2 separate regions of the Homo sapiens genome follow, and region 1 is linked to region 2. The links come from fine-mapping of genetic effects on gene expression. A gene starts in region 2. The other region holds a variant in brackets. All regions are shown on one strand. Distances are from middle to middle.

Region 1 (15,870 bases), 53 kb before region 2:
TTTCTACTGGAGGCTCTCAGACTCCAGAGCTCGGAAGAAGAGCCTGGGTGTCTCCTTTCAGCGCAGCAGTCTTTGTGTTATACAGATATTTCTCCTGGTTTTGGAGAGAGACAGGGAAAATGCTGAAAGATGGGAGAGAACAAACAATGGCAGGAAGAAGAAGAGATGGGAAAGAAAATGGAGACAGAAAACAGGTGAGCAGAAAAAAAACAACCAGTATTAAGTGAAAAATGATAGCTCTTGGCCAAATAATATCGAGTGTCCAAGTTAGGGGTGCCAAGAGGGGAAAGAATATGCTCACCGCGCAGTTCTGCGGGACTCAGAGAATAGACTTCTGGGCCCAGATAACGCTAATTGAGGCTCCTGTGTACTCCCCACACTCCCTCCCTGTGCTCCCTTCTCCTCTGAATAACAAGCCGAGTGACTGAACTCACATCTGGCCCCAACACTGACATCTGGCCCCTGCCCTGCACGCACAGCGCCTACTCCCCTCTGCTACCCCACTCTTCCGCCCTCAGGTCTGAGTTCAGCTGGCAGCTGTCATAACAGAAGGAAGTCTCTCACCTCACGGGGGCCGATGGATCTGGTGTGTTCTTCTCCAAGCATAGCTGCATAATAGGCCAAATTTTGGTTCATCACCTCGTCATTGGGGAAGAAGAGAAGATAGGTCTTGGCACATTCAACAGCCTGTGTATAATTCCCAACTGCAAAGTGGAAAGAAGAATGGCTGAGAGGAAAGAGTCAAAAGGAAAGGATAAAATCCTAGCACCAGGGACCACTTAGTGTTCAGTCTCCACAAAGCTTGAGGCAATGGCAGCATGACAAGCTGGTGCCTGCTACTTAACATGATGGCCTGATTTCAGGGGCAGGAGTTAAGTAATACACATAGAATGTGTGATTAATTTTAAGGTGAGGTGGTCAATGTCCTCAGGGCTGCCTAACAATGAAACAGAAAAGAATCAGAATTCTCTGCATGCCCACATCTTTTAAGATTCACAAATAATTCCAATACTCCTTAATATTTTGCCTCAATACACTCAATCATTAGATCAATTTCCCTGTCTTCCTACCTTCTTTTTTCTATAGATTTTCAGAAGACAAGGAAGATTACAATAGCAGATTGTCTCTTTGGCAAAATAGTTCTTGTTGATATTTGTTAGTCATCTCAACTCAACTGTAAATATTGTACACTCATCAATATGTTTGTAATGCTTAGCACACAGTAGGGACTCTGCAAAGAGTTGGTTTTCTGGGTATTAATTGGCAGCCCCACAAAAGCATCAGTGCTATACCAGGGAGAGGGCTAGCAAATGTCCTCTGAGCTAGTTTAAACTGTGGCATACCCTTATTTTGCTATTAACTTTAATTCAAAAGCAAAAATAGATTACAAGTTATAGAAGGGACAAGAGATGAGGTCCTAAGTCTCCCTCCCCCAGCTTTTTGGGTTGCTGGTATTGGCTTCCTAGGCCAGTTGTTTATAACAAACTACCCAGGGATCACTTGGCATGGTGCCTCCCATAGCTACTGAAATAAGCCAAACACCTTGAGGAAGTAAGTGGCTGTAATCCCTGCCCACCTTGCCTTTAGCTTCTTAGTTAGCCAGCAGAGAAAGAGGAAGGAAAGTAGGCCTTACTGTTATAGTAGGCAAACTGCAGATAATTATAATGCGATGGGAGGAAGTCTTCAAAGGGCTTCTCTCGACTTGGGTGGGAAGCAAGCTCCGTGACACAGTTCTGCTTACAGTTGAGGACCTGGATGTAATGATCTGAAAGGAATCAAACAGAAGGAATAACTATGAGGTCACTCTTTAGAACTCAAATTCTGGTTAAGATGAACAAATTCAAATGGAAGCAATTTTTCATCAGCTTCTCAGATTTAATAAATTGAGGAATGAGGGTGAAGAGTCCCCATTTATATTATCAGATGGTGACCTTAGAGTCCCAGGAGGCCTGGCTGAAGGTCTGGCTCTGAACTGCACGCACCTGTGATGGCCTGGAAGAGGTCAGCGTTGTACTCAAGGTAGTTGTAGCCATCGTAGTCATAGGGCCCTTCGCAGAGGGCACGGCACTCCTCATAGGCCACAAAGTATTCTTGCAGCGCCGCCTCTAGGTGGGGCACAGCTTCCTGTGGCTGTTCCTCTGAGTAGAGTCGCACTCCCAGTCGAAATTCTTGCTACTGGGAAGAAGGAGCACTCAAATGCAGGCCACAGAGGAGGAACCCTCTCTCCTTGCCCTCAGCCACCTTCACAGGGGTCCTAATTTCCTGTTCCTCAGGTTATGGATGGAAAGGGGTGACCTGGGTACCACTATAAAATGAAGGCCTTTTGTAAATGGTCTTTACAAAATATTTAGCTCTGGAAATTTAAAAACATTTAGCTCTTTTTTTCTTTTTTTGAGACAGAGTCTCACTCTGTTGCCCAGGCTGGACTGCAGTGGCACAATCTCAGCTCACTGCAACCTCCACCTCCTGGGTTCAAGTGATTCTCTTGCCTCAGCCTCCCTAGTAGCTGGGATTACATTGTGCCCAGCTAATTTTTGTATTTTAGTAAAGACGGGGTTTCACCATGTTGGCCAGGCTGGTCTCCAACTCCTAACCTCAAGCAATCCTCCCAACTCGGCCTCCTAAAGTGCTGGGATTACAGGTGTGAGCCACTGTGCCTGGCCAAAAAACATTTAACTCTTAATCTAGATGAAAGATATCTAGGAGTTCATTATGATTTTCTTGTACTTTTCTTCCCCCCCCATTAGTGACAGATTCTTGCACTTTTTTTTTTTTTTTTTTTTGAGTCGGAGTTTCACTCTTGTTGCCCAGGCTAGAGTGCAATAGTGCGATCTTGGCTCACTGCAACATCCGCCTCCAGGGTTCAAGCAATTCTCCTGCCTCAGCCTCCAGAGTAGCTGGGATTACAGGTATGCGCCACCACGCCTGGCTAATTTTGTGTTTTTAGTAGAGATGGGGTTTTGTCATGTTGGTCTGGCTGGTCTTGAACTGCTGACCTCAGGTGATCTGCCCGCCTCGGCCTCCCGAAGTGCTGGGATTACAGGCATGAGCCACCGTGCCTGGCCTAGGTTCTTGCACTTTTTTGTAGGGCTAACAGTTTTCAAATAAACACAACTTACTTTTTGTTTTGTTTTGTTTTGAGACAGAGTTTTTTTTTGAGACAGACAGCCCAGGCTGGAGGGCAGTGGCATGATCTCAGCTCACTGTAACCTCCACCTCCTGGGTTCAAGTGATTCTAGCGCCTCAGCCTCCTGAGAAGCTGGGATTACAGACATACACCACCACACCTGGTTAATTTTTGTATTTTTAGTAGAGACAGGATTTCACCATGTTGGCCAGGCTGGTCTTGAACTTCTGGCCTCAAGTGATCCACTCACCTCGGCCTCCCAAAATTCTGGGATTACAGGCATGAGCCACCACGCCCGGCCAACACAACTTACTTTTTTTTGTGTGTGTGATGGAGTCTCGCTCTGTCACCCAGGCTGGAGTGCAGTGGCACAATCTCGGCTCACTGCAACCTCCGCCTCCTGGGTTCAAGCGATTCTTCTGCCTCAGGCTCCTGAGTAGCTGGGAATACAGGCACACACCACCACGCTCAGCTAATTTTTGTATTTTTAGTAGAGACAGGGATTCACCATGTTAGGCAGGACGGTCTCAATCTCCTGACCTTGTGATCCGCCCGCCTTGGCCTTCCAAAGTGCTGGGATGACAGGTGTGACCCACTGCACCTGGCCACAACTTACTTTTAAAAGTCATTCTTTTTTTTTTTTTTTTTTTGACTGTTGCTCTGTCACCCAGGCTGGAGTGCAGTGGCACAATCTTGGCTCACTGCAACCTCCACCTTCCAGGTTCAAGCTATTCTCCTGCCTCCATGTCGAGTAGCTGGGATTACGGGTGCATGCCACCATGCCTGGCTAATTTTTGTATTTTTAGTAGAGATGGGGTTTCACCATATTGGCCAGGCTGGTCTCAAACTCCTGACCTTAAGTGATCCACCCACCTCGGCCTCCCAAAGTGCTGGGATTACAGGTGTTAGCCACTGCGCCTGGCCTATAAGTCATTCTTATATTGTTTCTAACATTCCTATTTTATAATTAAAATGTAAGGAACCATAAACTCTCTATAAAATGCTATATCATCACAGACAGTCCCTCCTTTGGAACTTTTCCTGCTAAACAAATAGAATGAGAACATTGAAGGATACTGTAACATTTATTGTAGTGAAAATCAAAAACATACATGACCAAAAAAATGTGACTAGTGAATTAATATAGTCTCTGCATAAGATGGACTATCATGCAGCCATAAACAATTATGTTTTCAAATAAAACTGAAGACATGAGAAAAGACTCATGATAATAATGTTAGTTAAAAAATGATGATGGGGCTGGCCATGGTGGCTCACACCTGCAATCCCAGCACTTTGGGAGCCCAAGGCAGTAGGATCGCTTGAGGCCAGGAGTTTGAAATCAGCCTGGGCAACACAGTGAGACCCCGTCTCTACAAAAAATAAAAACAATAGCTGGGTATGGTGGTGCATGCCTCTAGTCCCAGCTATTTGTGGGGCTGAGGCGGGAGGATCACTTGAGCCCAGGAGGTCAAGGCTGCAGTGAGCTATGATCACACCATTGCACTGCAGCCTGGACAACAAAGTGAGACCCTGCCTCAAAAAAAATAAAAAAGATGATAAAAAATGCATACATGATATAACACCAAATTAGATGAAAAAATTATATACGGAAGACTTAAAAAATAGGGCAAAATATAAACTGGTTTTCTTAAGGTGGCGGTATTACAAATGATTACTTTTTATTTTATACTTACCTACATTTCTACAATGTTATACAATGAACATTCATTACTTCTGTAATGTAATTAGAAAACAACCTTAGTAATGTCATTTAAAAAAAAACAAAAGAATGCATGCCTGTAGTCCCAACTACTCAGGAGGCCGAGACTAGAGGGTCTCTTGAGTCCGGGAATTTGAGGTTACAGTGAGCTATGATCAAGCCACTGCACTCCAGCCTGGGTGACAGAGCAAGACTCTGTCTCTAAAATAAATTTAAAAAGAAAGAAAGAAAGAAGGGGATAAAGTTTTTTTCACCATATGGGGTTGAGTCTCAAGATCCTTGAAGTCGGCCTCCTTCACTCCAGACATGGTTTGGTAATAGTCTAGGTTCTGCTGCATTTCCATGTGCTCAGGATTGCCCACGAAGAAGGTGTGTGCTGCAGCAACAGCTTTCTCCAACTTGTTGATCTAAGAATGAAGCATGAGAAGGTGGATAATGCTCACATCCAATCTCTGAACGTTTGTGTCCACATGAGCAGTCCACATAAACAGGAAATCCCTGCCTCCCTGAGCCCTCCACTCAGCGTGCCCAGCCCCTGCCAGCCCCAGGAAGCACACCTATTGCAGGAACTACCCACGACAGATTAGGAGCATAGTGCCCTGGGCAGATTTGTAGCTCTTTCCCAAGTCAGATTTAGGGGTTCCCCAGATTACAGGAAGTAGCAATGTTCCATTTTAAAACAAAGGTCATATTGTATGGGGAGTGCTGTGAAAGACTGACTGCCCACATAATATGTTTTCATGCTGGGTGCGGTGGCTCAGGTCTGTAATCCCAGCATTTTTAGAGGCCGAGGCAGGTGGATCACTTGAGCTCAGGAGTTCAAGACCAGTCTGGGCAACATGGTGAAACCCTGTCTTTACGAAAAATACAAAAATTACATGGTACTATATGCCTGTAGTCCCAGCTACTCTGCAGGCTGAGGTGGGAGGACGCTTGGGCCTGGGAAGCAGAGGTTGCAGTGAGCCAAGATGGTGCCACAGCACTCCAGCTTGGGTGACACAGCAGGACCCTGACTCAAAAAAAAAAAAATACATATATATATTTCATGAATCAAATGTAATGCCTGAGCTGAAGAAATTCTGTGGCTTCAAGGATTTAGGGGTAGAGAAAAAAGAGCAGCTAACAGACTATGCCTAAGAATTTTCCTAGAAAAAAATTTTTTTTTGCATAAAATAAAATGAAGAATTTTTGAGACATTTAGGGAAAAGGTGGATGGCTAAAAATTCTAAGGTCCTTTACTAAGTCCAGACATAGTATTTTCTGACTCAAAGCTCAGGGCTCATGAGGTTCAAACAAATAGCTCTAAGAAATCTGAGGGGGTGGTCGGGGGCGGTAGCTCATGCCTGTAATCCCAGCACTTTGGGAGGCCGAAGGGGGCAGATCTCTTGAGGTCAGGAGTTTGAGACCAGCCTGGCCAACATGGTGAAACCCCGTCTCTACTAAAAATACAAAAATTAGCTGGGCGTTGTGGCGCACACCCGTAATCCCAGCTTCTTGGGAGGCTGAAGCAGGAGAATCGCTTGAACCCGGGAGGCGGAGGTTACAGCGAGCCGAGATCACAGCACCATACTCCAGCCTGGGTGACAGAGCGAGACTCTTGTCTCAAAAAAAAAAAAAAAAAAAAAAAAAAAAGAAATCCAAGGGGGGAGAAATAGGCTACAGACCACAATGCCCACAGCAATGGACTCCAGCATGTCAAAGTAACACAGGTTTCATATATAGAATCCAACCAAATAAATCACTGATGATCTAGTAATTAACTATGTGGACACTGGTATCAAAGAGACCAGCCGTGGCCAGGCACGGGGGTTCACGCCTATAATCCCAGCACTTTGGGAGGCTGAGGCGGGCGGATCATGAGGTCAGGAGTTTGAGACCAGCGGATCATGAGGTCAGGAGTTTGAGACCAACAATAGCTGGGCGTGGTGGCATGTGCCTGTAATCCCAGCTACTCAGGAGGCTGAGGCAGGAGAATCGCTTGAACCCAGGAGGCGGAGGTTGCAGTGAGCCGAGATCGCACCATTGCACTCTAGCTTGGGCAACAAGAGCGAAACTCCGTCTCAAAAGAAAAGAGGGCTGGGTGCGGTGGCTCACGCCTGTAATCCCGCACTTTGGGAGGCCGAGGCAGGTGGATCACAAGGTCAGGAGATCCAGACCATCCTGGCCAATATGGAGAAACCCCATCTCTACTAAAAATACAAAAATTAGCCGGATGTGATGGCACGTGCCTGTAATCCCAGCTACTCGGGAGGCTGAGGTAGGGGAGTCACTTGAACCAGAAAACCAGAAGTCAGAGGTTGCAGTAAGCCAAGGTCGCCACTGCACTCCAGCCTGGCAACAGCGAGACTCCATCTCAAAAAAAAAAAAAAAAAAAAAGAAAGAAAGAAAAGAGACAGGCCAGCATCACATCTGGGCTTAATGACTCACTGACTGGCTGGGCAGTAGACAAGATACTTAAAGTTTACTTTCTAA[A/T]CTCAGTTTCCCTAATCTATCATCTGGAGATAGCATTCTCTAGCTATCTCCTAGCATTGTTGAGAGTTCAACGAGATAATATGCAGCCTGTAATACATGGTGCTGGGCACAGATTAAGTGCTCAATAAATTTTAGGTGGTATGATTAATATGCTAAGAAAACTTATTTTCTTATCATTGGTACTAGTAAAGGCACACTAAAGGAGTCAGCCCTGGTTAGGTGACCCAAGGTAAATAACTCCCCATCTCTGTACCTCAGTTTCTTTAACTGTAAAATTAGAAATTTTTTCAGGTCTGTCCCTTTCATGGAATTACTCTAGCTCTTGTGTCTTTCAGCGCTGCTCCTGCCTTTCTCTGTTCTCCCTCATGTCCTCACTCCTCTCTCCACCCCCAGCCTTCTTTACTCTCTAAGCACTGAGGTACTTAACCTCCTCTCTTGTGGACAAATGTCTGCCTCCTAATCAAGTGCCACCACTTTCTCCTTCTTCCAAGGCTCATTCACCATGGCTTCCAGAATAAGCGTTTTAAAACCCAAATCTGAGGATGGCTCCCTGCAGTCCGCAGAATTCTCTTCCAAATCTGGCCTCACTGACTTTTCTAGCCGCCTCTCCTACTACTCCCCACACACATCTCGACATTGCAATCACAAGAGTTCATTTTTTTTCCTGAATACATCATGCTTTGGTTCTACTTTTCTCTCTATCTGGAGGAGCCTTCTTTCCTCTCCCCCTGGCAATACTTAGGGCAGGCTTCAATATTACCTCTTCTTTGAAGTCTAATTTCTCTGAGATAAAGCTAGAGTCTCCCTCCTTTGTGCTCCCGCAGCCCTAAGTATATGCCCTTGCAGTAGCCCTTACTACAGTAACTCTTAACAGCAAAGCAAGACAAAGCAAAGACGTTAGTCGAGCATTTAATTACTTGTACAAGAACTGGAATGCAGTAGGTATGCAATACATGTTTGTCAAATAGTTTTAGAAAGTGCTATGATGAAGCGACATAACCAAAGACATAACGCAATTATTTTGATTTCAAGTCCAGCGCTCTTCCGAGTAACTAGGAAAAATGAGGGGAACTGTGTAGGCAGAATGCTGTGGAGGGGTGGAAATCTGAGGTCCCCAAGAGTCTCTAAGTGTCTCTTTAGATCGAATCGAAGGTCTTTTAAACAACAGATATACCAGATATAATGCACAACTCTTTCTCCCCCCACCCCCAATACAGTGGGACTAATAACAGCATCTACCTGACAAGATATTATGAAGATTAGGGCAAATGCGTTAATAAATGCAAACTGCTTAAAATAGTGCCTGGAAGTATGTGCTGGCTATCATCATCATCATCATCGTCACCATCACCACCACCAAACAAGCCTGGAACGCTCCAAGCCCAAGTGTACACTTGGACACATGGCACTCTGGCATTCCGAAAAATACTCATTTTCTTTGTAAACCTGGCAGACTAGCCAGAGGGTCCCCCCCCCGCCCCCACACACACACAGAAAGGGCCAGGCAGCCCCTGCTGGCGACGTGGCAACCTCACATCCTGAAAGAGAGCTGCTGAATCAAACAGCAGGAAAAGCACCACTGGAAAACCAACCGGAAGGGAGATATTGTAGACCGCTACTAGCTTCTCACTCGGACACTTACAATGACATCAGAATGGGAGACCCAAACTGCCGCTTTAATTCCTTCCAGGAGATTTCCCAGGGAACAAAATGGCCATGAGTTTTGCTTGGCCTGTGCCCTAACCCCAGGCTGGACCTTTGGGGTTAGCATCTGCCCATGCGAACTGGGCGAGGAAGGTCTCCTGCCAGGGAGCAGCTCTCCCCGGCTCCGAGGAGAGCTCCCCAGCCAGGAGGCCACTTTCCCCTCCCTGCGGACACTTCCCCGATCCCCCAAGCTCCTCAGGTCCCCTGCAACACTCCTCTCCCCAGAAGGACCCCGGCCGCCTGGTTCCAGGCAGGTCTGCACCTTGAAGTAGGCGACCTGCAGGTAGTTGTAGGGGCTCCGCTTGCGGAACTCCAGCTCCATCTCTTCGCTGAGCGAGTGGGCGGCCGGCGGCCCGAGGCAGCGGCGCAGGCAGGCAGCGCGACGCAGAAGGCCCCCGAAGAAGCTCAGGTCGCGCAGGGCGGCGGCGCCCGAGGCCTGGGCCGGGCTGGGGGACCAGTCGGGGTCCAGCTCCCACGGGAAGTCGGCGGCACACTGGGTGCGGCAGCGCAGGCGAAGGGCGCGGAGGGCTGCCCGGGAGCGCAGCGCCCGTTCCATGCTCAGGACCACCCCGGGCCAGTCCCCGCGCGCGTAGGCTGCGGTCCCCTCGGCGAAGAGCAGATCAGGCGTCACCATGCCCCATCCTGCCTCGGACTCGACCTCGGCTTGGGAGGCAGCGGCCACGACAGCCAGCAGTGTGGTCAGCAGCTTCAACGCGCGTACCGCCATCGCTCCCTCAGACCTAACGGAACCGCCAGCCACCCGCCACCAAGGCCGGAGTCCTACCCCCGGCGAAGGCCCGCCCCCGGGCGAAGCCCCACCTTCCAAGCCGGGCGGCGCATGCCCACGAGGCTTGCACCGCCTCTTTTCCTTTCAGTCAGCCCGGATCCCCCCACCGGCCCTCAGCGAATCCCGGCGCGTCAGCCGGAGCCCCGCCTCCGAGCTCAGGCCTTGCTCAGTCGAACTGACGCCCAGTAGACAAGAAAGACGGAAGCTCCGCCCACGCGCCTTTATGCGCAGGCTCTTCCTACTCGCACAGCCCAGGGAGTGGGGAGGATAAGGCGCTGTCATGGAGGACGCCGCCGCGCCGGGGCGGACCGAGGGGGTCCTTGAAAGGCAAGGAGCGCCGCCAGCTGCAGGCCAGGGAGGTATGCGGGGCGGGAGTCAGCAGGGGGAAGTCAGCTCCCGCGAGGCAGCCGGTCTCGGGGCTCCGCGGGAGGCCGACGGCGGGAGCTCACGGCTTGTGTTCCTGGGTGTGTGTCGCAGGAGCCCTGGTGGAGCTCACCCCGACCCCCGGCGGCCTGGCCCTGGTGAGCCCCTACCACACCCACCGGGCCGGGGACCCCTTAGACCTCGTGGCGCTCGCAGAGCAGGTGCAGAAGGTGAGGAGGCGCGGCCGGGGCAGCGAATAACCATCTTCGTTCACGTTGTACTCTGCGTCTTTCGGCTCAGACCTCACTACCACCTATGGTGGGGGTGGCATTTGCTCTTGTCTCCATTTTACAGACGAGTAAAGCCGACTGTCATTGTGAGTCGGTGGCCTGATTCGAATGACCTTCTGGGACCAAAGGTTCCTCTAACTGCAACTTGAGTGCCCATAATCTTCCTTCGTGGGAAGGTTTACACAACACTTTAGTGTTCATTATTTCATTTGCACCTTAGGACAGCCTTGTGAGGTAGGCAGTACAGAGTTATTCTTCCCATTTGACACAAAGAAAAGTTCTTCGGGAAGTTTCAAGGTCCGCTTATTTTAAGCTGCTTCCCATAAGATCTTTGTTACCTGAGAGTTTAAACATCTTCTAGCAGGGCAAGGACTCCAAGTTTAGTCCTCATTAAACACAGTATTCCCAAGCCCAGTGTTTATATATGGATGGCCAAAATAAGTCAAATAAGGAGGAAATGTGAAATAATGGAAAAAACACTGGAAGTTTGGACACATGAGTATTAATCCCACTTTTGATACTAACTTGCAGTGCGACTTAAGGCAGATTACTTCTCTCTGGACCTCAACTATTTTATCTGTGAAGTGAAAGGTTTGAAGTAGTAGAGCTCCAAGATCTAAAGTTTTGTCATTATTCAATGAAAAACCAGATTCCTTCTTATCTCTTATCAAGACTTCCAGTTGTACACCCTCTTCAGTGTCCACAGATGGAGGGTCCTGCTGTTTTAAAGATTATCATGGCCCCTTATCCCTGTATACACTATCAGATTTGGCCTTGATTATGTTCCAGGGTCTTTGCTTTGCCCAAAATTATTTAATGTGCTCAAATTCCCTCACATCTCTTTTTTTTTCAATGATCCTAGAAATCCTTCGAATCCTTTTTTTTTTAAAATTAAGAAAAATTCAGATACGCAGAAAGCTCCTTTAATTCAAAACTTGGCTTTCTTCTTTTTGAAGAGCTGGGGAGCAAAGTGCAACTTTTATTTATTAAGAGAATATGCATCTAGTTAATCAGATTACTCTTATTGGGAGGGAGGTTGGCAGGGACAGAATCTTGTGCACACAACGTATTCATGTGCTATTGAATGACTATCGTGTTTATTACGATGGCCTGAACAGATGGAAGAAAGAACACAGTTTTTGTCTTTCATCCTATAATCTTATGAAATACAGAGGATGCATTATTATGCTGCCTCTGTTTCCCCAATACAATCTGTATTTGAGAAGCTGAAGAAAAAAAAAACTTTAGAGACAAACAAATTGAATCAAACATATTAACTATCTAAAATGTACTTTTTGGCCAGGTGCCGTGGCTCACACTTGTAATCCCAGCACTTTGGGAGGCCAAGGTGGGTGGATCATTTGAAGTCAGGAGTTCGAGACCAGTCTGGCCAACATGGTGAAACCCCGTCTCTACTAAAAGGTGTGGTGACTCATGCCTGTAGTCTCAGCTACTCGGGAGGCTGAGGCATGAGAATCGCTTGAGCCCAGGAGACAGAGGTTGCAGTGAGCCGAGATCGCACCACTGTACTCCAGAATTGGTGACAGAGTGAGACTCTTAAAAAAAAACAAAAAAATGAGGCTGGGTGTGGTGGCTCACGCCTGTAATCTTAGCACTTTGGGAGGCTAAGGCGGGAGGATTGCCTGAGCTCAGGAGTTGGAGACCAACCTGGGCGACATGTGAAACCCTGTCTCTACTAAAATACAAAAAATTAGCCGGGCATGGTGGTGTGTGCCTGTAGTCCGAAGCTACTCTGGAGGCTGAGGCGGGAGAACTGCTTGAACCTGGGAGGCAGAGGTTGCAGTGAGCTGAGATCACACCACTGCACTCCAGCCTGGGTGACAGAGCAAGTCTAAAAAGAAAAAAAAATGGTGGTGGGCTGGGTGCAGTGGCTCACGCTTGTAATCCGAGCACTTTGGGAGGCCAAGGCGGGTGGATCACGAGATCAGGAATTCAAGACCAGCCTGGCCAACATAGTGAAACCCTGTCTCTACTAAAAATACAAAAAATTAGCCGGGCATGGTGGCAGACGCCCGTAATTCCAGCTACTCATGAGGCTGAGGCCGGAGAATCACTTGAACCTGGGAGGCAGATGTTGCAGTGAGTGGAGATTGTGCCACTTCACTCCAGCCTGGGTGACAAAGTAAGACTCCGTCTCAAAAAAAAAAGTACTTTTTTAGCAAGACTGACCCAGGTATTGGTGTGTGTTCAGAAAGCTCAGGAGGCCTGGTATTAAGGCATGAATTTTGGAATCTGACCTGTGTTCAGATCCTTTGCTGTTTATTATCTGTGAAACCTTGGACAGGTTGCCTCATGTCTGTGAGTCTTAATTGCTAAAATGAGAAAGTGAGGTTATCATCTCCAGCGTCATAAAGGTGTTGTGAGAAGTAAATGAGATGAATGTAAAGGGCCTCAGAGTAGTTGAGGCCAGGGTTAGTGCTTAGTAGTTGTAGGTACTCTTCCCTTCCTTTCTTTTTTATGAGGCTCTTTTGTTTTTAAGTTGTTCGTGAAATATTTTGCATTTTTTTTGTTTGTTTCTTTTTTCCTTTTTTTGGACCTCAGACTAATCCATATTTTGCATTTTATATTAACTCTTCAAAATATAAATTCAAATTTTGTTTATGAGATTTATTGCTAACACCTTAAGAAAAGGGAGGGTTATTATAAGGCCACCCCTAATCTGGAACTACCTTAGCTCTAGAAATACCTACTCTCTCCTTGGCCATATATGGCTCCTCCTTTCTTTCTTTCTTTTTTTTTTTTTTGAGATGGAGTTTCGCTCTTGTTGCCCAGGCTGGAGTGCAATGGCGCCATCTTGGCTCACAGCAACCTCTGCCTACCGAGTTCAAGCAATTCTCCTGCCTCAGCCTCCCAAGTAGCTGGGATTATAGACATGTGCCGCCATGCCTGGCTAATTTTGTATTTTTAGTAGAGACAGGGTTTCTCCATGTTGGTCAGGCTGGTCTCAAACGCCCGACCTCAGGTGATCCATCCGCTACGGCCTCCCAAAGTGCTGGGATTACAGGTGTGAGCCACCACACCTGGGCTTTCATTCTTGGAACAAAATGCAAATTCTTTTACCATGGGCTACAAGACTGCACAATCTGGTCTCTGCTCTCTTTTTAAACCCTGTTCTACACATTGCCCATCACTAACTACTCTTCAGCTGCACTGGCCTCAAATGCCTGCAAACTTTTTTTTTTCCAGCTTTTTTCATGGTCGGTCCTCTCCTTTCATTTAGACCCAAGTCAAATGTTATATCCTTGGTGAGGCCTTCTTGTCTGAAGAAGACCGTACCCTACCCCATCCAAATGACAGTATTATTAAATTGAATTCAAATACCTCTAGGCTACATATACTTTCCAATTCCCCACCACTCCCTATTATTAAACTTCATAAAAATGAAGTAGCTTTTTTACTTAACTCATTTGTTATCTTTAACCTGCTTCTACGACATAATTGTGGTTATTTCCTTCATAACAGTGCATTGTTATGAGTACATATAATATTAGCTTTAATCATCTTTACTTTTTGGTATCTATTACTCACTGGAGCTGTGCTTTAGGTAGCCACTAGCAACATTATGTCTGTTAAGCACTTGTGTTACGTTGTTAGTGTGGCTGAGGAACCGAATTTTGTATTTTATTTGATTTTAATTAATTTGAATTTAAAAAACCTGATAATTACTTCAATTATTGGAACTCAAGTATATTGGAACAATTTGAGTATGTGAATCAACTTTTTCACATATAAATTTTATTAAGTTTAAATACAGATGAAGTATTTCTGATGAAAATTTAGCATCCAAATTGAGATGTGCTGTGAGTACAAAATAAACACTATATTTTGAAGGCTTAATATCAAATGCAAAATATGGATTAGACTGAGAAGGACCAAAAAAAGAAACAAAAACAAACAAAAAATGCAAAATATTTCATTAACAACTTACAAATAGTGATTACATGTTAAAATGAAAATGTTTTTGATATATTAGGTTAAGTAAAATGTATTAGCTGAGCACGGTGGCTCATGCCTGTAATCCCAGTACTTTGGGAGGCTGAGGCAGGCGTATCACTTGAGGCCAGGAGTTCGAGGCCAGCCTGGCAAACATGGCAAAACCCCATCTCTACTAAAAATACAAAAATTAGCGGGGCATGGTGACGCATGCCTGTGGTCCTAGCTACTCAGGAGGCTGAGGTGCGAGATTTGCTTGAACCCGGGAGGCGGAGGTTGCAGTGAGCCTCTGCACCACTGCATTCCAGCCTCCGTGACAGAGCGAGACTCTGCCTCAAAAAAAAAAAAAAAAAGTATTGTTAGAATTAATTTACTATTAACGTGGCTACCAGAAAATTTAAAATTTTATATGCAACTTGCCTCATATTTCTGTTGAACGGTATTAGACTTGACTTGCGATCTTGACAAAGGCAGGGACTTCTCTTTCCTGTTTGCCAGTACACCCAGTGCCTAGTGTGGTGTCTGACACATAGTAGCTGCCTAATATACATCTGTGGGACAGATAAATGACTCAGTTTACTTGTGTGGTTTCTGTTCACTCATAACACTGGTTTATACCTGAACTTTGCCTTAAGACTCCTCAACTAACCAGCAAATTCTCTTTAATATTTCTTAGTTCAGGTTCTAGTTTAATCTCCTCATTTCTTTACCTTAATTGTGTATAATCAGCTTTTCTTAAAAGTAAGGTGGAAGTTTTTGACAGAATTCTATTGCCTGAGTGGTAATCCTTCCCAGCACATGAATTTGTCACATTAGTCTCTCCTAGCTTTGAGAATTTGATCTATTTTAAGAAATGTCCTGGCTGGGCTCAGTGGCTCACACCTGTCATCTTAGACCTTTGGGAGGCCGAGGTGGGCGGATCACCTGAGGTCAGAAGTTCGAGACCAGCCTGGACAACATGGTGAAACCCTGCCTCTACTAAAAATACAAAAATTAGCTGGGCATGGTGGCGGGCACCTGTAATCCCAGCTACTCAGGAGGCTGACATTAGAGAATTACTTGACTCCAGGAGGCAGAAGTTGCAGTGAGCCAAGATTGCGCCATTGCACTGCAGCCTGGACAATAAGAACGAAAACTGTCTGAAAAAAAAAAAATGTCCATTGCCTTCAGTTGCACTTTGTGGCACGTGACAGGTAGTCTTGTGTGTACATTATAACTCTGTTTCAGGTCCACATCATAATGCAGTCTTTTAAAATACATTTTAAGTAATAATTAGAAATGCACATATAAGTTAACATTTAAGTAGTTGTGATGTAAATAACTGAGGAAATGGTCAGATTAACGCATACTTTCTCAGTTCAGGGGGTGTGGGGGTCACACAGAAAAACCCGAATACTTTCTATGTGTATCTAGATTTCTACCTTAGCAGATGATAAGGGCCAGATCACAA
Region 2 (15,870 bases):
ATGCGGCTGATGAAACTAGTAAATTTTATGTATATTTTACCATAATAAAAATAAATAAACTTGAATGGTTAAAAAAAGGCTGAGTGAAGACAGCCAGTCACGGTAACATATATAAAAGGTCAGAAACATTCAAAACAATATATTGTTACACAACAAAATATTTAGAGGTACACAGACAGTAAATTAACGTAGAACAGCAAGAATGATTAGCATAAAATACAGCAAAGAGGGTACTGCTGGTGGGAAGGGTGAGGTACATGACCAGGAAAGGAGTACACAAAGCTTCCCAGTTACTGGTCACGTTCTATAGTTGGGTGTTTTATTCTTAAGCCACATACACACATTATATAAATATACTTTTAACACACACACACACACACACATACATACATACACACACACACACACACACACACACACATATATTTTTTTTGTGAGCAGAGTCTTGCTCTGTCACCAGGCTGGAGTGCAGTGACCCGATCTCAGCTCACTGCAACCTCCGCCTCCTGGTTCAAGCAATTCCCTTGCCTCAGCCTCCTGAGTAGCTGGGACTACAGGCGTGCACCACCGTGCCTGGCTAATTTTTTGTATTTTAGTAGAGACGGGATTTCACCATGTTGGCCAGGATGGTCTTGATCTCCTGACCTCGTGATCTGCCCACCTTGGCCTCCCAAAGTGCTGGGATTACAGGTGTGAGCCACTGTGCCCGGGCCCACATATATACATATATATTTGAAAACCTCTGCTTGCTTCATTCACTAAGTATTTACTGAGCATTTTTAATCTGCACATTACTGTACTAGGGACTGAGATGCAAATTAAATAGCTTCTCAGAGACCTCCAGATCAAGGAGGCAAGATGGTAGGAGAAAGAGGAGACTCACAATGGGTCAGGGTGTCCAGGCCAAAGAATGACTCTCAGTCAAGAAGGAAACGGACCCTAGCAGTGTCAAACGGTGCTTCCACTGCCAATGTGCCTTCCGTTCCCATTCACCTCCCACATCTCTCCTTCACATCTAACTTTCTGGAATCTGGCGTCTGCAGAATTGAATAGAAACTGTCTCTTCCTCCCCACAAAGGGTCTTGTTGCATTACATTCCAGGCAATAAAGATTAAAAACAAACAGGATAGGCGCGGCGGCTCACATATGTAATCCCAGCACTTTGGGAGGCCGAGGTGTGCGGATCACTTGAGGTCAGGAGTTCGAGACCAGCCTGACCAACATGGTGAAAGTCCATCTCTACTAAAAATACAAAATTAGCCAGGCATGGTGGCGGGTGCCTGTAATCCCAGCTACTCAGGAGGCTGATACAGGAGAATTGCTTGAACCTGGGAGGTGGAGGTTGCACTGAGTCGAGATCGTGCCACTGCACTCCAGCCTGGGTGACAGAGCGAGACTCCGTCTCAAAACAAAACAAAAACACCAACCAACCAAACAGAAAAAAAAACAGCAAGGCAGCTGTAGGGGGCAAGGCAAAAAACAACAGACAAAAGTCAGAAGATGTTTAGACCACAGGCCTGCCCCTCTTTAACTACAGGACTCTACTCACATCCCTTTGAAGTGAGGATAATACTGCCTACCTCACAAGGCCATATATTTTACATATCGGATTAACCAAGGTTAAATGGGAGTCACAATAACTCCTGCTTTGGAGCCCTGGTGTGAGGACTACATGTGGCTATGCATGTGTAGGCTTGGCTCGGTCCTGGCACATCTCAAGAGCTGCACGGGGCCAGCTGCTGCTTGAGTGCAGCAACGTTGCATTTCAGCAGGTCAACAGGAACTCAGCAGTTGTTCAATTTAGGGTCCACACAATAAGAGCAGGCTGCCTGCTTGGAAACACAAGATTATTCCTGATCATAATCACTGCTAGTTATCAAATGCTTCCTCTGCCAAGTACTGCGCTATGGGCTTTACACGTGGTATTTCTATTCCTTTTAATGGTCTTCTGAGGTAGATGTTATCCTCATTTTACCAAGGAGGAACTGATGAACTGGGGGTTCAGAGAGGTTAAGTATCTTGTCCAACGTCACATGGAAGAACTGGGATTTATGGAGGAGCTGAGATTTGAAGTCAGACAAATAAATTTAACCTATAGAACTTTACAGAAGGGTGTCAATAAGGGCATGAACAATGTCCTCAACATCTATCCTTACAATATGCACAGAGGACAGTTTCATAGGGCTGTTTTTTTTAAAAACGGATTTTAACATAATTACTATGTGTACATAGACAATTAAGAATAGGGAAAAACCCCAAATTAATGTTTTAACAAGTTACAAGCTGTTACTAAAGACAATATCCTTGGATTTAAAAAAAAAAAAAAGAGTACAATAGAGGAAGTCTCTCATTCAACCGAGCAGTTTAACCAATCTCTTTTAATAAATCCAGCACATTACAGTGGTATAAATTTATCTTTTTTAACACTCCACATAAAAACATGTGTCCTCTCTTACATTTAATCATTAGTAGTCTCTAAAATGGTAAAATAAATTGAATTTACATTAGCAAATGAAAGTGCAAATTTGTACAGCTAGGCTCAGCAGCAAAAGTGAAGAATAAGAATGAAAGGTGAAAAGCTGGTGGATGCCATGCAGAGCGAGGACTTCCATAAAGGTCTGTGCCCTGCGGCCAAACACAGTCAACACACCACCATTTTCTTGTTGCTCTTAAATGAGCAAAACCAAATTTCTTTTTTATTTAATGAAATATTAAATCTTTATTTCCCCCTAACATAATTTGTGATCAAGTAGGACAGAGGTAAGTCCCACCATCACTGGGGACAGTAGCAACACACAGACTTCAGAAACAGCCTTGAATCATCAGTAACATCCTCCCCTGGTAACGTTAGAAGGAATGCATCTAATGACAAATTTGCAATGTTGTCACATTGTTCTAATTTATTTGATTAGTTTATCTGGAAAAACTTTACACATTATTGAAGACAACAGTAAATTATTTTCTTGCTCTGAAAAAATAATGTTTTTTCACATTTTAAAACCTTTTAGTATGCTTTTGCAAAAGTAGTTGCAAGAATATGACAGCTGGGTTTGCAGAATGTCCATGTACAAGTTTGTATTTATAAGAAACTGGTAATCTGCCTATAATTTGCCTCTACAAATAGAGCTCTTTAAAATAATATTTTTAAAAAAACAGGCTTAAACTTTTCCCTATTCATTCTACTTGTAGCAAAGAGGTACTTACTTTTCAAGTATTACATGGTAAAAGGCACAAGTTTTTTTTGCCAATTTTAAGCTGTTAAGCTTTAAGACCAAACTATGTGAAAAAAAATCATGCCTAGTCAATCCTAGTCAATCATTTTATAGCCAAATCCTCTTGTCTTTTAAATAACGCAGAAAAATACTAATTTGCTAAGAAGGAGCACACTGGAAAAAGCCATTTGAAAGTACTGAAGAATGAGGAGTATTTTTTTTCTACTGATGAAAATTATTAGGAAAGCTATCCTGTCTGTTGTCTTTAGCTAGTTTAAATAAATCTTTTCAAAATGATGGTCAAGAAATCTTTAGAAAACTGGAAGAGGGGATGCTCTTTTATAGCATGAAAGGAATTCCATTAATTATAGAAATTCTCGTTAAATTTTGACGTTGGTTCTTCAGAAAAAATACGCATTTAACTTCTGCAGTCTGTTGTGTTTGAACACCATCTACCTGAGCCAGGGGCCCAAGCGTTCCTTCATCATCAAAGGCCAAAACTGGATTCAAAGGAACTTCTGGGCTCTTACTGTTAGTGACATCTAATCTGGATGGTTTCGATCCAATGGGTAAATTTATAATTTCTTCAAAATTTTCATTCTGAACAGAGATACTCCATTTTCATTTGGTTTTCCAAATTGGGGGTGCTCTCCACAGTCACTTTTGATTGGTGTGAGGTAACCACATATGGGCTGGCAACTGGTTCTCCATTTCCCAGAGCATTTGTTGTACACGGAAGTATAGATAGCTCTGTTCCTCCAGTGAGAGCTCCCTTGGCTATATCACCATTTCTCTGATCAATGGTTTTCTTATCTGTAGCTTCTGTTCTCCTGCTTCAGGGCTGTTTCTTATAGCAACCCTCATATTGTTCACCAAAGCACAATGCAGTCATATCATCTGAGGACCCGGATCCAGGTGGGAATGGGAAGGTAAAGGACCACAGCTCTCAGGGGGTCTGCCTTAACCCAAAGGTAGATTTCAGTTTACAGATTAACTTCAAATGCACTAGTAAGTTTACTTATTATGTTTACTGCCTCCCCTTGCTGGAATGCAAGATCCATGAAGGCAGGGATTCTTTTCTGCTTTGTCATCATGTGACTCAAATTCCTCGAACAGTGCCTGGCACATACTAGCAGTTCTTTTTCTTTTTTTTTTGTTTTTGAGACAGAGTCTAGCTCTGTCGCCCAGGCTAGAGTGCAGTGGCACAATCTCGGCAACCTCCGTCTCCTGGGTTCAAGCAATTCTCCTGCCTCAGCCTCCCGAGTAGCTGGGACTACAGGGAGCACCACCACGCCCAGCTAATTTTTTTTTTAGTAGAGACAGGGTTTCACCATGTTGGCCAGGATGGTCTCAATCTCTTGATCTCATGATCCGCCTGCCTCGGACTCCCAAAGTGCTGGGATTACAGGTGTGAGCCACTGTGCCTGGCCAATATTTAATGAATGAATCAGGTTAACAAAAATTAAAAGTTGACAATATCGGCCGGGTGCAGTGGCTCACACCTATAATCCCAGCACTTTGGGAGGCCAAGGCAGTGGTGCACGCCTGTAATCCCAGCTACTCTGGAGGCCGAGGCAGGAGAATTGCTTGCACCCGGGAGGCAGAGGTTGCAGTGAGCAGAGATCACGCCACTGCACTCCAGCCTGGGTGACAGAGCAAGACTCCGTCTCAAAAAAAAAAGAGACTCACCATCAGAGAAATGCAAATCAAAACCACAATGAGATACCATCTCACACCAGTTAGAATGGCGATCATTAAAAAGTCAGGAAACAACAGGTGCTGGAGAGGATGTGGAGAAATAGGAACACTTTTACACTGTTGGTGGGACTGTAAACTAGTTCAACCATTATGGAAGACAATGTGGTGATTCCTCAAGGATCTAGAACTAGAAATACCATTTGACCCAGCCATCCCATTACTGGGTATATACCCAAAGGATTATAAACCATGCTGCTATAAAGACACATGCACACGTATGTTTATTATGGCACTATTCACAATAGCAAAGACTTGGAACCAACCCAAGTGTCCATCAATGATAGACTGGATTAAGAAAATGTGGCACATATACACCATGGAATACTATGCAGCCATAAAAAGGGATGAGTTCATGTCCTTTGTAGGGACATGGATGAAGCTGGAAACCATCATTCTCAGCAAACTATCGTAAGAACAAAAAACCAAACACCGCATGTTCTCACTCATAGGTGGGAACTGAACAATGAGAACACTTGGACACAGGAAGGGGAACATCACACACCAGGGCCTGTTGTGGGGTGGGGGGAGGGGGGAGGGAAAGCATTAGGAGATATACCTAATGTAAATGACGAGTTAATGGGTGCAGCACACCAACATGGCACATGTATACATATGTAACAAACCTGCATGTTGTGCACAGGTACCCTAGAACTTAAAGTATAATAATAAAAAATAAAAAATAAAAAGAGACTCCATCTCAAAAAAAAAAAGCAATGTGGCAATGTCTAGTAAAATTGAGAATGTACCCAGTAATTTTTCTAGTTAAATAACCTACAGAAATTCTAAGGCAGGTGCCAAAGGAGACACCTAAAAGCTTTTCACTACAGCAATGTTTGTAATAGCAAAAAATACTATAAATAATTTAAATGTGCATCTCTGTAAGAATGAATAAATATACTAAGTAAAATGGATGCATAAAATAGACTATTATAAAAATTAATGAGAATAAACTAAATTCTTATATTGGCATGAATAGTTCTAAAAAACAATGTAAGCAAAATGCAAAATAAAATGCAGGAATTTTATTAATGTAAAAATTTAAAATACTACTGTATATTGTTCAAGGATATCTATTAATATATTTGAATGTAAAAGTATAAAAAAAAGTAGTTGTCCATGGAGAAGTAAAAGGATGTAAGACAGGAAATGAACAAAGCAGACAGATAAACAAAACAAAGAGGGAAAAAGAGACCAGCAAGATTTTCCCTGACATTAAATACTAAAATAAAATACTTATGTCTGTATGTGGCTCAATATTGGCAGGGTAAAGTTTAAAGCTTTTTATTCTCAAGTTGATTGTAATCGTTGAGAGAACAAAGGAACACACTGGTGAGTTTAAAGCTTGGGCCTCTACCTGGCATGAGTAGCTGCTTTCCGCACCAAATCCAGAACATCTGTACTGGGGGTGTCTGACACTTGCGTGCTCTCTCTCATTCTGACCCCTTCTTTCCCCTTACATATCATTTTTTTTCCTTTCTTCCTTCCCTTGGGTCTCTTACCACAAAAGCTCCGCACCAGACTGGGGTTCTGACACTAACTTGGCATGTGATTCTGGGCTGCCACCTCACCATTCTGAACCTCAGTGTTGTCCCCTCTAAACCTGGGAGAACACCCATCCTGCCTGGAGGCAAGTATGGCTCGCTGTCAGTTCTCCTTTCTGCTGTTTCTCTATTCCAGCATCATCTCCAGCAGACTACAGGCATACAGAGCCTCCGCCTTAATCTCACCTCTGCTCTTTGTCTCTGCTTCAGCTCCTGCTGGGCTGATTTCTGTTTGGCCTTCTCAACTCTGCTGACAGATTCTTTAACTTTGGTTTTTTCTTTACGTGCAGGTGGATCCATGGCTTGACTTCTGGATATTTCTTAGGAGGCTCTGATCTGGGTGGTACAGAAAGAGGCAGATCTTCAAAACAAAACAAAACAAAAAATACCCTGCCAGTTACTCCTCTAATCCTTTAGCTCCGCCCCATCCTTTGCCAGGTGAGGCAGAGTGGTCTGGTGGCAAGGGCGCTGGATGTGGGGGAGTAGGAACCGAGTCCCAAGGCCACAACCTCGCTGGGTGTCCCTGGGCAAGTCTCCTCCCCACTTTGAGCCTTAGTTTTCTGTCTGCAAAATGGGTTAAGTGTTTTCCTGGCCTCCCTCCAGGAGCTGCTGTGTGCGGGTGAAATGCAAAGACCCCTGTGAAAGCGTTGCCCACTGTGCGGCGTGCGGCACCCAGCGCGGAACCGTCCTAATGGGACGCTGAGACCCAGAGGGCGCCCAGGGTTTTCCCACTGCGGCCGGCCTAACTCCGCCGCAGCAGCCGCTCCTGGGGCCAGGGGGCCGGGCCCCATAGCCAGCCGGGCCCGCCCCCCACCGCCCGGCCCCCCGACCCCGCCCCGGCCCGCCCGGCCCCAGGGGACGGCCCCCGCCTCCTGCCCTCTTCCCTCTCCTGGAGGAAAATGGCGGTCGCTGGAGCCGCCGACCAAGAGGCTTGGGAGTCTGTACCTTTCCCGACCGGGCCACTGGAAGTTGGAGCCTCCGCCGAGTCGCAGACAACGCCTCCGGGAGGGTAATCCTCGCCTTCCCCCGACCACTGGACCCAGCGCTGCCTGCCCACCGCCCCTCGTCCTGGGCGGGGCCGCGCGCCGGGGGGAGGGGCGCAGGGCCGAGCGCCAGGAGGCTTCCGCCCGCAGGAGCGGCCGCGCGTGCGCAGAGAGGATGGCTGGAAACCCGCGTAGAGGGCGGGGCGGGGCAAGCCGGTGCCGGGGCGGGGCAGGGGCGGAGCCACACCGGGGTGGGTGGTGGTTACGGCTAACCAAAGCTTTTTCCCGTTATATTTTCTGCAACAGCTACTAGGTTTTAGAGGGTGAGATCCGAATCCTGGAATTGGAATTGCTCAGAATTCGAATTCCGAGGCTCAATTTCTTAATTCGAAAAGTGGGGATTGATGATTGCCACCTTCTTCATTCATGAGTTTATTGGGAGGATCAAGTGAGATCCCGTTTGCCACAGTGCTTTGAAAAAGGAAATCTTGACAGAAGTACCAATAGCCAGTATAAATACAGAGAACATTCACGTTCAACTGATTACCGAGGAGATGTAAATTAAAATAGCTGGCTGTAATTTTCCAGGTATTACATTAGCAAGGATTGACAAAAATGATAATAGCTACCTTACATTTGGGCTTACTATATTCCAGGCACTGTTCTTACAGCTTCACATTTATTAACTAATTCCTCATAATAAGTGTGTATAATGTATACGTGTATATTATTATCCCCATTTACACATAAGGGAACAGAAGCATTGAAAAGTTAAGTGAGTTGTCCCGGGTCACACAGCTTCTAAGTGCTGGAGCAAATATTTCAGCCAGGATTCATAGGACAATGGCCTTATCCAAAGTAAAACCCTGTTTGGGTCCACTATTTGTTCCTCTATCAAACTGGCAAGAATTGAAACAACTGATAGATGCTAAGCAAGCAATGAACTCAGCCCAGATGGACACACGCTTCCAGTCAAACTGTAAATCGTTAACAGCCTTTCTGGAGGTCAGTTTAGTACTAGGTATCAAAAGCCTTAAAAGTGAGCACAATGCCCCAAAAAGACAAATACTGCATGTTTCCATTCATATGAAGTATCTAAAGCAATCAAAGTCTAAGAAACAGAAAGTAGAATGGTGACTGCCAGTGGCTAGGAGAGAGGGAAAAGAGGAATTGTTTAAAGGGTATAGAATTTTAGGTTTGTAAGGTGAAAAAGTTCTAGAGATCTACTGCACAATGTTTATTTTTTATTTATTTAATTTTTAAAAAATAGATGGGGTCTTGCTCTGTCACCCAGGCTGGAGTGCAGTGGTGTGATCATAACTCACTGTAACCTGGGCTCAAGCAATCCTCCCACCTCAGCCTCCAAAGTATCTGGGACTACAGGCACACACCATCATGCCTGGCTAATTTTTTAAAATTTTTTTGTAGAGATGGAGTCTCACTGTGTTTCCCAGGGTGATCTGGAAATCCTGGGCTCAAGTGATCCTCCTGCCTCAGTCTCCCAGAGTGCTGGGATTACAGATGTGAGCAATTGCGCCCAGCTTTTCCAAAATTTCTACAGTAAACGTTTATACTTTAGCAATCAGAGGAAAGTACATTAAATGTCTTTTTAAAAACCCTATACAAATGCTGATTCGATTATTATTAATAAAAGTAACCAAGTCAGAGTCTATTTCAGAAATCTTGATGTAGTACTGGTATTTTACATTTGTGTCACATGGTATGGTTTATAACGTTCATATAAGCTATGAACTAGATTACAGCTGAAGACACGGCAGGACCTTTAGAAGCCAGCTAAAAACAAACCAGCTATAGGGAATGGAGGAGTGGAAAAGCCACATGGAAGACTGGAAAAGTAGTGGTGCCACTGAGCCACTGTTGAAAGTGGAGAAGGTGTGATGAGTTGGTTTGGGAAACGGTGAGGAAGAGGATAAGTTAGGAGCGTGTGTGTGTGTGTGTGTGTGTGTGTGTGTGTGTGTGCGCGCGCGCAAGAGAGGGACCGAGAGAGAGAAAGAGCTAGATTACGCTTCAAGTGGCAATAGGCAAGAAGAATTGTCCAGTGAGCAATTAGAAGATTTCAGAAAAGAACGGAACTGGAGATACCAGTTTGGGATTCTACATTCTTTATTGGGAAGGTGAAGGTTGGAGCCAGGAGGGAGTGAATGTTGAGGCTGAACACTGTCAAAGTCCCCTCTCTATTCTTTCCATGAGTTTATGCTTTGTCTGTCTCTTTTGTGTCTACCAGTGGACTCTTGGCCAGGCTGCAGAATTTCCTGGTTTGTTGAATGACTAGCAAGAGTTTATAGTAATATAACTAGAATATTTTTACAGTTGAGGTATATACTACACTAAGATTATATTCACTTTATTGAATAATATTTTTTCTAGAGTCAAAAAATTATCTATTTTTATTTGCTTAATGATCTATGCATCCCTTGTTTATTTTTTATTTTCAGAGGTGGGCTCAAGTGATCCTCCCGCTTCAGCCCCTCAGTGGCTGGTACTACAGATGTGAACCAGGTCATTTACCAGTGTCTTTTTTTTTTTTCTTGGCAGCATCCCTCCTTAGACTCATCCTCTCTTTGCTCCAAACTCCTCTGCTTAGCCTTGCTTCACAGCTCTTGTCCTAGGATTAGGGACCTAACCACATTCTGGGGATTCTCTTCTTGTTTCTCCTGTGCCAAATCCCCTGCTCTCTGGATCTTATGTTTTTCCATTCTTGGTTTATTCTCTCATTTTGGAGGAGTATGTTCTCCACTAACTCCCCAGAAGGGGTTCATGGAAGCTAAATTTTTGAGTCCTTGCTTGTCTAAAAATGGCTTTATTTTCTTTCATCCTTGAGTGACAGATTTCCACATTGGAAATTATTTTCCCTCAGAAGTTTAACGGCATTGATTCATTGTCATCTAGCTTCTCATGTGGCTACTCTTGAGGAGACTGATTTATTCTGACTTGTGTTACTTCCCATATATTTTGTTTGTTAATTTGTTAATTTGTTTAGGATATTTTTCTCCTTTATCCTTGATGTTCTGAACGTTCATAACAAACTGTCCTTTAAGTATTTTTCATTCATTATGCTAAGCACTCGGTGGCCCCTTTCAATTGGGAAACAAAGTCTTCAATTCTGGGAAACGTTCTCTGTGATCAGTTTCTCTTTTTTTTTTTTTTTTTTTAACAAATAGAGACAGGGTCTCCCTATGTTGGCCAGGCTAGTCTTGAACTCCTGGCTTCAAGTGATCCTCCTGCCTCAGCCTCCCAAAGTACTCAGATTACAGGCATGAGCTGCTGCACCCAGCCAGTTTCCCTGTTTTTAAATTTTTCTTCATGTTCCATTTCCTGGTTTTGTTTATTCTAATTTACAAGAGATTTTCCTGAGCTGTATCCCCTGGTTCTTCTATTGAATTTTTTCATTTCTGCTACAAAAATGTTAATTTCCAAGAGTTTTTGTTTGATCCCCGACTTTCCTTTTTGGTAGCCTCTTGCTCTTATGTTGTGGATTCAGGATCTTCTCTTATTTCATATTTCTGAGGATTCCAGTTGTAATTTTCTGCTGTTTTCTTCTGCTTCCTAGATTGTCTCTGTTGTTTATTTTGGTCTCTGGCTTTCAAGTTGGAGCTTATCCTCAGACAATAACAGCTACCATTGAGTATCAGCCCCTATTTTAAGTATTTTGCATGTTTTAGCTAATTTAATCCTTACAACAACCCCGGGAGGTAGAGCCAGGCCCTGGTCCCTCCCATCCCAAGCCTGGAAGGTTCTCAGTTGAGAATCAGCTTTCTTCTTGCTGATGTCAAGGGTTGATGTCAGGAACCCTTTATCTGATGTTTCCCCCAATCCTGCCTCCCTCTGCAGGCACCTGGGTTAGAGTTCAGTTTTTCCTAGCTCTATTACTAGTGAGCCCTCTGCTTTCCTTCATTAAAGAAATGTATTGACATCTCTATTGCACAGTTACTTACTGTCCTGTTCTCTTTGTCCTTATAGGCTTTTCCTTTTGCACTCCAAGATTGTCATTTTAGATCATTTTGGGAGGTAACAGAGATAAGCATTTGTGTTCAATGAGACATGTTTATTTAACTGGAAATCTAGAGCTCCCTCTTTTTAAGTCAGGAAGCATATAGACCAAAAAAATTACAGTGATTATTACTGGATTCTGAGATTACGATTATGAGTGATATCTTTATCTATGTCTGTATCTGTTTTTCTCACTCATAGAGTTAGAAGTCTAAAAAGAACATTTCAGATAAGAAACTCATTTTATGATGTGATTTAGACTATCTGATAAAATGCTTCTGGAGAAAGCAGTAAAAATATTAATTATGACAAGTTATAAATTGGTACAATTACTTTGGAAAACAATTTAGTATCATCTATAACCTGGCAATACTACTTCTAGGTATATATTCTGAGAAACGCTTTACATTTAAAAATTATTGAGGACCTCAGGGAGCTTCAGTTTATATGAGTTATATTTTTTGAAATTTTCCATATTAAAAATTAAAACTGACTGGGTGTGGTGGTTCATGCCTGTAATCCAGCATTTTGGGAGGCCAAGGTGCGAGGATCACTTTAGGCCAGGAGTTTGAGACCAGCCTGGGCAACGTAGTAAGACCCCATCTCTACAAAAAAATTTTTAAAAATAGCTGGGCTTGGTGGCATGCACCTGTAGTCCTAGCTACTAGGGAGACTGAGGCAAGAGGATCACTTGAGCCTAGGAGTTCAAGGCTGCAGTGAGCTATGATTGTGCCTTTGCACTCCAGCCTGGGCAACAGAGCTAGACCCTAGCTCTAAAAAAAAAAAAAAAGAAAACTAAGAAAAATTAAATATAATTACTACTTTTAAAAATAAAAATAATAAATTATATAACAACAAAACATATATTTATGAAAAGCAACTTTTTTGAAACAAAAATATTACTGAGTAGCACTGCTTTATATTTATATAAATCCTTTTTAAAAAATTAATTTTTTTTTTTTTAAGATGGAGTCTCACTCTCTCGCCCAGGCTGGAGTGTGGTGGTGTGATCTCAGCTCACTGCAACCTCCACCTCCCAGCTTCAAGCAATTCTTGTGCCTCAGCCTCCTGAGTAGCTGGGATTATAAGCGTGTGCCACCACGCCTGGGTAATTTTTGTATTTTTAGTAGAGACAGGATTTCGCAATGTTGGCCAGGATGGTCTTGAACTCCTGAACTCAGGTGACCCGCCTGGCTCAGCCTCCCAAAGTGCTGGGATTACAGGCGTGAGCCACTGCACCCAGCCCTAATTAATTTTTAATTGACACATATGGTACATATTTATGGGGTACAGAGTAATATTTTGATACATACAATGTGTAGTGATCAGATCAGGGTAATTGGCATATTCATCTCAAACATTTATCATTTCTGTGTTTTGGGGACATTCAGTATCCTTTCTTCTTTATTTGAAACTACATAATATATTATTGTTAACTATGGTCATCCTACAGTGCTATAAAACAGTAGAAGTTGTTCCTCCTACCTAGCTGTAATTTTGTGTTATTGAACAAATCTCTCCCTATCCTCCCCTTCCCTCTCCAGCCTCTAGTAACCTCTGTTCTGCTTTTCACTTCTATGAGATTAACTTTTTCTTTTTTTTTAACATCTAACTATGAGTGAGAACATGTGGTGTTTAACTTTCTGTGCCTGACTTATTTCATATAACGTAATGTTTTCTAGTTCCATCCATGTCACTTTGAATGATGGGATTTTATTCTTTTTAATGGCTATAAATATTTTAGATGTCTGGCTTAATAGAAGACAGCTGTATTCTCAAGCCAGCTATATCTTTCAATCTGCTGCAGTATGTTTTGTGGTTGAAGTGTATGCAATTGGAAAAGGAGCATTTCAGTAGCTTTTTCAGATAATCGTGGATATTCTTTGATAAGACACCAAAACTCAGCAAGTGGTAGTTTTTTAAAGCTTAGTTGTGACATGAAATCTGAAACCATAGCAATGACCTTTTTATACTCTATTACAGCAACACTCACAGTTTTTTCTTGCATTTTAAATGAATGTTTTACCCATGCAGGGTTTTGTCAACACACCCATTGGTCATTTGGAAATTGCTGAGTCACTGAGTTTTACAGATCTTCTAAATGTTGACACATTTCATTATACAACATCAAAAAATCACATTTATTAATATCAATGCCAATCTCATCAGAAAAGTCTTTTGCTATTGTGAGGGTATCAAGCAGCAGATAAAAATTTTCCAAAATTCTAATTTTTGCTCAAAAGATTGAATGTTCTCATTGACAACAAACACTGTCAGTTGCTTTTCCTGAAGTGACAGGTGCACTTTATTCATTTTGGAGAAAATGCCTGCCAAATACCCAAGTCTGAATAATTATACTTTGTCTTTCAGCTGTACTTTCAGGTAAGAATGGTGCTCCATGAGTCAAGCGATTACTTCAGCTCACAACTCAATCACTTAAGGTTTTTTCCTCGATAAAGTCATCATACTTTGATATGCAGCGTAACTGTTTATGCATCCTTCCCATTTTGTCACACAAACTATTAAAAAGATGTGTATCTAAGAGTTGAAATTTAATAAAATTTGTAACTTCTACTACAGTTTGGTGCCACTTCCTGATTTGTGCTAGCTGTTTTACCCACTATTGCTTTTGCAGTGTCCTTGAAAATGTCAATACCGTGAAAAAGGCAAATAACGTCTTTATTATGATGAATGTAGTTTTAACCTGGATGATAGGGCCTCAGGGACTTCAAGTGTTTGTGGACCACACATTAAGAACTGGTGCTCTAGAGAAATTCTTGCACATGTGAGCAGGAAATACCTATCAAGAATGTTCAGGGCACGAGGCCGGGCGCGGTGGCTCACGCCTGTAATCCCAGCACTTTGGGAGGCCGAGGCGGGCGGATCACAAGGTCAGGAGATCAAGACCATCCTGGCTAACACGGTGAAACCCCGTCTCTACTAAAAATACAAAAAAAAAAATAGCTGGGCGTGGTGGCGGGCGTCTGTAGTCCCAGCTACTCCGGAGGCTGAGGCAGGAGAATGGCATGAGCCCAGGAGGCGGAGCTTGCAGTGAGCCGAGATCGTACCACTGCACTCCAGCCTGGGCGACGGAGCGAGACTCTGTCTCAAAAAAAAAAAAAGAATGTTCAGGACAGTATTATTTATAAAAGCTAAAGCCCAGAAACAACCCACATTTCTATCATTAAGGGACGAGAGAAACTGTTGGTAGATTTATATAATGGTCTACTATATAGCAGTGAATGAATATCCTAGTGCTCTGTGAAACAACCTGGATTAATTTCAGTGTCTTAATTTGTACACCCCCAGAACAGAGTGTGAGGTGTGAGACAAGTACTTCAGTTCAAGAGTGTATTTAGGAGGTAATCCCAGGAAGCAGAAATGGGAATGAGCAAAAAAGGAAGAAAAGTCAATAAAAGGTGCAGTACGGAGCTACTTACCACTATGAACCACCGTGCTCACTCCCATTGGGAACACTCAGAGGAATCATGTCGAATACAGCTCAGAGCTGAAGGTGCAAGCCTGGAGCATTTTGTCTTGACTCCTCTCACTGTTGTTTATGTCTCCGAGGTGTTAGCTTTGGTGAACTTCTGGGCTGCACAGCCTTCCAAGGCTTTGTAGAAAGCCCCAAGACAGGCAAGCAGAAAAATGCCATGGCCTATGAGGTGACATGCTAGCAGCTTGCCTGCAAGTCTCAGCTACACCAAAATTGGGTGGGCTGAGGGGACATGGTGTGGGCCACCACAGATGTCTGCTAGACTCAGAAGCTAATGTTGAATAAAAAAAGGGAATAATTGGGAATTATGTACAATGGGCTCCATCTTTATAAAGTTCAAAGGACATAAAAATGTGTAATGTATTGTTAATGATATAATTATGGAGATTATGAACATACAGCTAAGGATATTATGAAAGCAAGACAGGCGGGAAGCGTTTATCACATGTTGGAAAACAGCAAGCTTGCTTATCAGAAGGCACATGTCAGGGTGTAGCTGGAGATAAAGATAGTGAGTTAAAGAAGGTGGTTAATTGGTGGATGTCTTTGAAACCAATCTTCCAATTTACTCTGATTTGAAAAGTAAAGGGGGAAGGTTTTCAGAAAGAATGTGATAGGATCAAAACGCATCAGAGGGAATTACTATTGGCAGCATTGGAGGAAAAGGGAGTGGAGGGGCAAACGTGCCTCCTACCCGGTCAGTCATACTCAGTGGTTCCCTCATTTTTGGGAGCCTCCTCTTTGCTCTGTTCTTTTATCAGGGGCATACAGACAGGGTGTGGCTTGCTGGTTTACAGGGACAGCGAGAAGGGAGTTCTGTGGGGGCAGAGAGAGCCCTGGCCTCTCATATTTCATAAAATATGAACTTT

Direction of the effects. Alleles are on the strand shown, and positions count from the first base shown. SD is a standard deviation of normalised expression in the study named.
As copies of T replace A in region 1, the expression in left ventricle of the gene that starts at base 7,664 in region 2 goes up (moderate effect, 0.54 SD a copy in GTEx).

Evidence for each region.
Region 1: its variant is fine-mapped to the expression of SVBP in left ventricle (GTEx, PIP above 0.99).

Annotation. Positions count from the first base shown.
Region 1 is chr1:42,757,219-42,773,088 of GRCh38, forward strand. It overlaps P3H1 (prolyl 3-hydroxylase 1), which reads right to left and starts at 9,810. Exons shown (of 15, transcript NM_022356.4): 1 at 9,289-9,810; 2 at 5,105-5,257; 3 at 1,983-2,172; 4 at 1,634-1,765; 5 at 565-704. The coding sequence starts at 9,753. It overlaps C1orf50 (chromosome 1 open reading frame 50), which reads left to right and starts at 10,031. Exons shown (of 5, transcript NM_024097.4): 1 at 10,031-10,172; 2 at 10,291-10,406. The coding sequence starts at 10,094. RefSeq lists an enhancer at 9,069-9,188 and silencers at 9,449-9,558, 10,179-10,318. The variant A/T (reference allele first, on the strand shown) is at 7,323.
Region 2 is chr1:42,809,734-42,825,603 of GRCh38, forward strand. It overlaps SVBP (small vasohibin binding protein), which reads right to left and starts at 7,664. Exons shown (of 3, transcript NM_199342.4): 1 at 7,457-7,664; 2 at 6,698-6,847. The coding sequence starts at 6,811. ERMAP (erythroblast membrane associated protein (Scianna blood group)) reads left to right here and starts at 7,389. Exons shown (of 12, transcript NM_001017922.2): 1 at 7,389-7,520. RefSeq lists silencers at 6,538-6,607, 7,168-7,367, 7,518-7,807.